3 separate regions of the Homo sapiens genome follow, and all the other regions are linked to region 1. The links come from fine-mapping of genetic effects on gene expression. A gene starts in region 1. Each other region holds a variant in brackets. All regions are shown on one strand. Distances are between the middles of the regions.

What was found. PIP is the estimated chance that this variant, and not a neighbour inherited with it, causes the effect. A credible set is the group of variants that fine-mapping cannot tell apart.
Region 2: its variant is the best candidate, but not a certain one, in a credible set for the expression of MRE11 in lymphoblastoid cells (GENCORD, PIP 0.77).
Region 3: its variant is the best candidate, but not a certain one, in a credible set for the expression of MRE11 in Th2 cells (Schmiedel 2018, PIP 0.58).

Annotation. Positions count from the first base shown.
Region 1 is chr11:94,492,458-94,495,311 of GRCh38, reverse strand. MRE11 (MRE11 double strand break repair nuclease) reads left to right here and starts at 1,468. Exons shown (of 20, transcript NM_005591.4): 1 at 1,468-1,521; 2 at 2,406-2,530. The coding sequence starts at 2,511. ANKRD49 (ankyrin repeat domain 49) reads right to left here and starts at 1,328. Exons shown (of 3, transcript NM_017704.3): 1 at 1,277-1,328. RefSeq lists an enhancer at 1,029-1,118.
Region 2 is chr11:94,325,731-94,328,587 of GRCh38, reverse strand. No RefSeq gene overlaps it. Among named protein-coding and RNA genes, the nearest start is that of IZUMO1R, 23 kb to the right of the region's middle. The variant G/A (reference allele first, on the strand shown) is at 1,620.
Region 3 is chr11:94,468,212-94,470,711 of GRCh38, reverse strand. MRE11 (MRE11 double strand break repair nuclease) reads left to right here. Exons shown (of 20, transcript NM_005591.4): 9 at 70-241. Among named protein-coding and RNA genes, the nearest start is that of MIR548L, 2.9 kb to the right of the region's middle. The variant G/T (reference allele first, on the strand shown) is at 1,206.

The DNA of each region.
Region 1 (2,854 bases):
TTAATTAAAGTCTTGTCACTTGATTTTGCCTGGAATGGATTCTGAGAAGTTCCAGAGTTAGGCATAACCCCAAGATACTGATTTCTTGATACCTAATCTCACAAGTTTAACAGTATACAATCTTAATGTGGTATTAAACTTTATTACTAGTGGCAATAGCACTAAACTCAAGTTTAAATGTATTACTCATGTCCAGTAACTTTTCTGGTCCTGTTACTTTATTGTAAAATGTAAGAATTTTACTAAAGTATTCCTAAGGCCAATCCGGCTTTTCAGTCACCCAATCAGAGACACCCTTGGAATCAGAGATATCCAATCAGAATTGCTCTGTGTTTTATTAATTCTCCTGGAGCTTCCACTTTTTCTTTGATTCTCAAACTAATTCCTGAACCTTGCAACACAAAAATGACCATACATCAATTCATTAAACACTTAACAGATGCTAATAAATAAAAGTTCACTTGTAATTATATCAAATATAGTAACCTTATACCACAGATCTTACCCTCTCCCCCAACATGCTTTTCCTTTCAATAAAAACTCCCTTTATATAAATTTTGAGTTTACAGATCCAGATACAAAAAATTATGTACAAAATTTTACTGGTATATTTAGTTTAAAAAGCCAAGCCTAGGCGCATCTACCCGACTTACAGTTAAGAAACAAAACTGATGACTTGATGATGATATTCCTGATATTCCATCAGGAATGTCAGGGTATGTTTCCTAACTTAAAGGGCATATCCTATTTTGAGAGAGATCCGAACTATGTCAACTCCTTACAAACAACTCAGTGATAGGCGGGGCTATAAACCTTACTGGTGAAGGAGGTTCAGATAGATTAAAACAACTTGCCCTAGATCAAGGACCCTTCAATGGAACTGAAAGGGCAGACGTTCTAATTCAAAAGTTCTACATTATTTTTCGCTGCACTATACATCTTACTGCTCTCAGCACAAAGCAGTGCAGATGTGCTGAACTCAAGGACCTAGGGGCGACACCTGTAGAGGGTCTGGCGACTGGGAGGGAGGGAGAGGGGATCCAGCTCCGGCACTCTGCCACCAGCCGGGAGCTCACAGGCCCGTGAGCTCCGCCTGCGGCCTTCCAAACAGCCAAGAGCGGAGAAGCGGCTTCGGTCCTACCTGGGGACCACGAAGCGGCCTGACCTGCAGGGCTCGGCCTGTGTCCACAGGCTACCCACCCCCACGGGCTCAGGAGTTCTTAGATGGCGCCGGTCCATCAAAAAGCGAGGTCCGGGACAGGGAATAACAACCCACCTGACAGAAGGGAAAATCGCCGCCTTGCATCTCACTTCCGGGTTCGTCTCCTAGCCTGCTCAGGATTGGCTCCTGCGTGAGGGCGGGGCCTCGCCGCTACTTTCCCCGCCCCCTCACTGCGTGCGGTAGCCAATGAGAGCCGAACTGGACTTGAAGCATCTACGTTATCCATGAAGTGTCGCGAGAGAAACGGACGCCGTTCTCTCCCGCGGAATTCAGGTTTACGGCCCTGCGGGTTCTCAGAGGCAAGTTCAGACCGTGTTGTTTTCTTTTCACGGATCCTGCCCTTTCTTCCCGAAAAGAAGACAGCCTTGGGTCGCGATTGTGGGGCTTCGAAGAGTCCAGCAGTGGGGTAATTTAGGAATCGCATTCGTCTCCTGTTTCTGCAGGTTCCCAGGCGGAAGCCCAGAGTTAACTGGAACCTCGGGAAGAGCGGGCCGAGTGGGCAGGGGAGGGGTCCTGGCGGGCTCAGCGTTCTGATTCCGAGGTTCCCTGCGGTGAGGGCGTGTTGAGGCTTGGAATCCCGACGGAATCTGGAGCTCCAGATGTGGTGGGGGTTGTCTCGCGGTGGCAGCCACTCTTCCCCAAACCTGGCTATTTTCAGTCATCCTGCTGGTGCTTAAAGGTGTTCCTCCGCAGACCACGTGTTTGTTTATTTACACTCGCTTTAAACGCGGGCCCGTTCCCTTTTCCAAACTAGCCAGGTCCTTTAAAAAAAATCGTGGGGTTTGAATAGGAAATACAGGATTGCCTCTGTTCTCCAGAGTAACCTATGCGTGCAACTTAAAAATATCTGCACATCTAGAGTTGTTTGTGTGTTGAACCAGAACCGTATGTGACCCTTTCTGCCCATTTATTTAGCATACATTAATTTCCCATAAGAGCACGGGAAAGGAAAATAGGAGTTTAATCATCTTGGTGAAACTAGGAAACAGGATGTACACTGGAGATATATTATTTTCTATGCTCAGTTCATTAAAAAAAAGTATAGTGGGTGCTTAGATGAAAATGAGACTTCTAAATTTGCCAGTCTAATTAAGACGTCTGTACCTTGTGCAGCGTAAATCATGTTGGTTAAATACGTGCAGGCTTTTAAAAAATGTGTTTTATGATGTAATTTTGTTTTTAGAATTTCTAGAATTTGGAATCGAGTGCATTTTCTGACATTTGAGTACAGTACCCAGGGGTTCTTGGAGAAGAACCTGGTCCCAGAGGAGCTTGACTGACCATAAAAATGAGTACTGCAGATGCACTGTAAGCACCTGACTTCTGGAATCCCTTGTTATTTGGGGTTTCTAAAGCTCGTCAACTGTGATCACAGTAAAAGAAAACTTATTTAATAAGCAGTAAATAAGGAACCTGTTTATGAACAGAAATATTAGTCATCAAAAAGGGTATTTGGAATGTTTTAAATATTTATCTGTTTGTTAACTGGAAGCTAATATGCAGCTATAGATTGGAGTCTTGCAGTAATTTGATATATTGATATAGTATTGTTTATGTTCTTAGGCTTCATCTTAAATTATTGAAGTGATAAATATTCTTGAATTTTCCTGACAAATTCTTATTAGTCAATGC
Region 2 (2,857 bases), 170 kb after region 1:
CTAAACCCCAGGCTGGTAGAGCCACCAACATGTAGCTCCAACCTGGGACAGCTGCAAGCATGTGACTCCAATGCATGACAGTTGCTGTATGGGATGCGCTTAGCAAAACCCTGGAGCCTTCAGGGCCTAACCCTCACCCCAGTGTGTCTGGAAGGTAGGACATTGAATTAAAGATTATTCTGGAGCCTTAAGATTAAATGTTTTTGCCCTGTAGTGTTTCAGACTTACTTGGAACCCATTATCCCTTTCTTCCTTACTATTTCTCCTTTTTGAAGTGGGAATGTCTATCCTATGCCTATCCCATCATTGTATTTGGAAGTACATAAGTTATTTGAATTTACAGGTTCACAGTTGGAGAGCAATTTACCTCAGGGTGAATCATACCCTGAATCTCACCCACATTGATTTAGGTGATATTTAGATGAGACTCTAGTTTATAGACTTTTGAGTTGGTACTGAACAGGTTAAGGCTTTTGTGGCTACTGGGATGGAATGAATATATTTTATATGTGAGAAGGACATGTCTCCCACTTTAAATCAAAAGCTAGAAATGAATAGCTTAATAAGGAAGGCATGTTGAAAGCTGAGATAGGCTGAAACCTAGGCTTCTTGCACCAGTTAGCCAAATTGTGAATTCAAAGGAAAAGTCCTTGAGGGAAATTAAAAGTGCTGCTCCAGTGAACGCATGAATGATAAGAAAGCCAAACAGCCTTCTTGCTGGTATGGAGAAAGTGTTAATAACTTGGATAAAAAAATCAAACCAGCCACAACATTCCCTTAAGCCAAAGCCTAATCCAAAGCAAAGTGTTCAACATTGAGGCAAAACTCTCCACCAGCAAAAAGATCACAACTTGCTGAAGGTTCAGATGATTGTCAGCATTTTTTAGTTATAAAGTATTTTAAAATTAAGGTATGTACACTTTTTTAGACAGAATGCTATCACTCACTTAGTAGACCTCAATATAGTGTAAACTTTAATGTGTTCTGGTAAGCCAACAAATTTGTGTGACTCACTTTATTGTGATATTCACTTTATTGTGGTGGTCTGGAACCAAAGCCACAATATCTCCAGGTTATGCCTCTATTTGACAGAGTTTTGTGATTAGACAACCTTCAAGACAGCCCCCAATGATCCCCATTCCTGGTGTTCATTCCCTTCTATAATCCCCGTCCCACCCCCCACCACCACACCCAGAGTTGATCTTTCTGGGATAGACCTAATACTTTGCTTCTAATGAATAGAATATAAGGCAAAAGCGATTCAATGTCTTTTCTGAGACTAGGTTCCAAAAGGCTATCATTTCTGTTTTGATTGCAGAGTCTGTTTTGATTCTCTTTCCCTGGCTCTTCTCGGTTTGCTGACTCTTATGAAATGAGCTGCTATATTATGAGCTGTTCTGTGGAGAAACACATGTTAAAAGGAATTGAAAGTGGCCTCTGGCCAACAGCCAGTGAGGAACTGAGGCTCTTGGTCCAATAGCCCACAAAAAACTAAATTCTGCCAACAACCATGTGAACAGCAGAGTTGTGAGTGAGCTTGGAAATGGATCCTTCCCCAGTTGAGCTTTAAGATGACTACACAACCAGATGATACTTTGACTGTGTCCTTGTTAGAGATC[G/A]TGAGCCAGAGTATCTGCTAAACCATACCTGAATTTCTGGGCCATAGAAAATGTGTGATAATAAATATTTTAAGACACTAACTTTTGGGGTAATTTGTTACACAGTGCTTTGGTTCTTATGTGTCCCCCAAAAAGCAGGTGTTAGAAACTTGATTCCCAATTCAACAGTGTTGGGAGGTGGAACCTGATGAAAAGTGATTAGGCCAAGAAGGTGAAGTGAATGGATTAGTGCCATTATTGTGGGAGTGGGTTTGTTATAAAAGGGAGAGCTTGGCCCCCTTTACGCACATTCTTTCTTTCATTCTTCCTCCCTTCCTGCCATCATATGACACAGCAAGAAGACCCTTGCAAGATGTCTGCACATTGATATTGGATTTGCTACCCTCCAAAAGTGTGAGCCAATAAATTTCTGTTTGTTTTAAATTACCTAGTCTCATGTATTCTGTAATAATAGCACAAAATGTACTAAGACACGTAGCAATGGATAGCTAATACAAAGTTGATGATGGGAGTCCTCTATGGGAGGACACAAAGTCAGCCTCCTATTGATCACCCATGGGTAGCTGCAGAAAGGGCAGACCAAGTATGATGTTGAAGCACAGAGTATACAAACGGACTGAATATATAAGTGGACAATGGCAGACTGTATATTACAATAGAACTCTGCAGCAACCTGGCCGGGAAGCCAAACCATAACCTTTGTAGCAACTTTCACAGAATGGGGAGGACTTGGTCAATGGCTGCCAGCTTCCTTATTTTTTGCCCTCACTTCCAACTGAGGCCCAAACATAGAATGCTCCCCAAATTAATCATGTAAGGTGCTCCACTTCTAATTATCCTGCCTAAAGCTTCCCACACTGACAAATTACAATCAGAGCATACTTAAAGCTGTTCCACCAACTTTTTTTTTAACTATAAAGTTTTCCCACTCTCTTTTGCCTGCCTTGAGCCTCTGTCATAGGATAAGTGAGGGTGGCTGACCCCCTTGTTATAACCACCTCTGAATAAATAGCCTCTGCTTGTTCTCATGTTAGCGATCTTCATTGCCACAGCACCCTCTTCCCCAACTCCCATGTGTTCTGCTGCCTCCTGCTGGCCACCTGAGGAAGACCAACCTTGCTGGGGGCCACACTGCTCTGGATGTTCCTACAGAAACAGGAGCAGCAACCCAGATGGCTAATGACCAGTCATCCTCTCCCTTCTCCACCTCTTATGCTAGCATTCACTGTGAGTTGTCT
Region 3 (2,500 bases), 24 kb after region 1:
AGCTTTCGTTTGCACATCACCCTGAGGAAATTTACACTGTGACTCGGTGTTCATTTCTCTCCACTTCAGACATGTTGGTTTGCTGCGTATTAAAGGGAGGAAGATGAATATGCATAAAATTCCTCTTCACACAGTGCGGCAGTTTTTCATGGAGGATATTGTTCTAGCTAATCATCCAGACATTTTTAACCCAGATAATCCTAAAGTAACCCAAGCCATACAAAGCTTCTGTTTGGAGAAGGTAATTCTTTTTGATAAAGTCAATGAGATCTACTTTAGTTGAAGAATTATTCACCTTCAATTAAGTAATTTAATAGAGTAGAGGGAAGCCTTTATGTTGATTACATTCTCATGAAGCCTGTAAGGACACTGTTCTTCAGTGAATGTGTTTAATTGTGTCCAAGATTTTTTTTTTTAAGTCATTGAGAGAGAGGAATACTGGATGTTAAAAAAAATTAAATCTCTCTCCTAGTTTCTTTCTTCCTTTTCAAAAACATAATACATAATCTTTTCTCCTTTTTAATCCTGATTTGATGATTTGTTCATTTTATTTATGAAAGCAGGCAGTAACTTTGATTGAGGAATGGGAGACTATCGTGTGTGAGAAAAGCCTTAGCTTCTAATAATCTGTATTAGGCGTCCCTTTCACCCTGAAAGCTACCCCAAATGAAATGTGAAAAATGTGTTTGCTATCCACCCTATTGCTGCAATGTAAGTCCCAAACCTCCCTCTCTATGCACATTGCCACCCCTAAATCTCTAGAAAATTTCAGCCACTACTAAGGTTGGGTGGATTAATGCATTTAATAATATGTGGTTTGACAGCTTAATTAGCATCACTTGCTGACGCTCAGTTCTTAACTCTGTGTCAGCTGTCCTACTATGTTTTCTTTTCATGAAAAATCAGGTAACATAGTAACAATGATAATAATTATGACCAGTGATACTTACTGATTTACTGTATGTGATGTGCACTGTTGACAGCATTTAATCTAGCCAACAATACTATATGTGAGTAGTTTCTACCATCTATAGTTTAGAGGAACTGAACCTTAGATAAGGTGACTCATTCAGTGTCACAGCTTTTTGAGCAGTGTGTAGCTCACGTAACCAAAAGTGTACGCTTGTTTCAAGATGATTGACTCTAGAAACTCAAACATAGATTAAGATTCTGGCATCCCTAAATCCAATCTCTCAAGCCAAAGA[G/T]ATAGAAAATGCATTAATTGCTTTTGCATTGATTGATCCAGGCCTGAGTCATGTGCCCTTCCCTGGAGTCAGACCTGGGTTTTTCAACTTTGGCTTAGTTGACATTTTGTACTAATAATTCTTTGTTGTGGGAGGCAGTTCTGTGCACTCTGGGATGTTTAGCAGTATTCTCCCTGGTTTGTACCCACTAGATGCCAGTAGTACCCCTTCTAACTGGTCGTGATGATCAAAAATGTTTACAGACCTTGCCAAATGTCCTTAGAGAAGCAAAGTCACCTCTGGTTGAGGTCTACTGTATGAACTTCACCTAAATCCTGTGGGCTTTGGTGACATGAATCCAGAGAGGAAAGTAGACGCTGGTGACACAAAGTAATAGAGGTTCATTTTAAACACCAGGTGTGCACATAACTTTCTGTTATCTCTGTATTTTATGTACATTTCTGTTATTGTACTTAGTTAAGTTATATTATTTTTTATAAGCATGTGAGTGTCTTCTGAACTCTTTGAGGACAGGACCCATATCTTACTTTTCTGTCTCAGCACTTGACCTAGTACCTGGCAAAATGATGCTCTATAAATGCTTGTTGGATTGAAATAATTGACCTAGGAGATCATATTCTTATAGATTTTCTCTGTGCTGTCTGATATGTATTCACTAGCACATGTGGCGTTTACATTTAATTATTTACATTTAAATTTAAAATTCAGTTTCTCACTTGTACTAGCCACATTTCAAGTACTCTATATCCACATATGGTTTTGGCAACCATATTGAATATGCACATAGAAAAAATTATTGCAGAAAACTCTTTTGGACTTCATTGTTACAGACAGTTTAAAGGACAAGATTATAAAGTCTTAGATGTGAAAGAAATCTGAGGACAAAAACACTTGTTCTGTATTGTTCTTGAGATCAGGACCAAGTTATAGGAAGGCAGTTTTTGTTCCAATACAAGAACTTTCTAAGAACTAGAATTGTTCAGCTATGAAGTTGGCCATCTGGAGATATCTAATCACTGTGCACACAGCCATTTATGAAAATAATCTAGTGCTGTCTCCTTGTAACTTGGTTTTACCCTTAAGAACAATATAGAACAAGTGCTTTTGTCTTCAGAACTCTTTCAAGTCTAAGATGTTATAATCTTATCCTCTCAGAGTATGAGACAACTCCACATATTTGAAAACATCAGTCTTATTTTCTTTTACCTTGAACTCTTCCAAGATAAATAATCTAAAGTCCTTGCTTATTGATCCCTAAATCTTCTGGTGAGTCTCCCATGGATCATATGACTGCA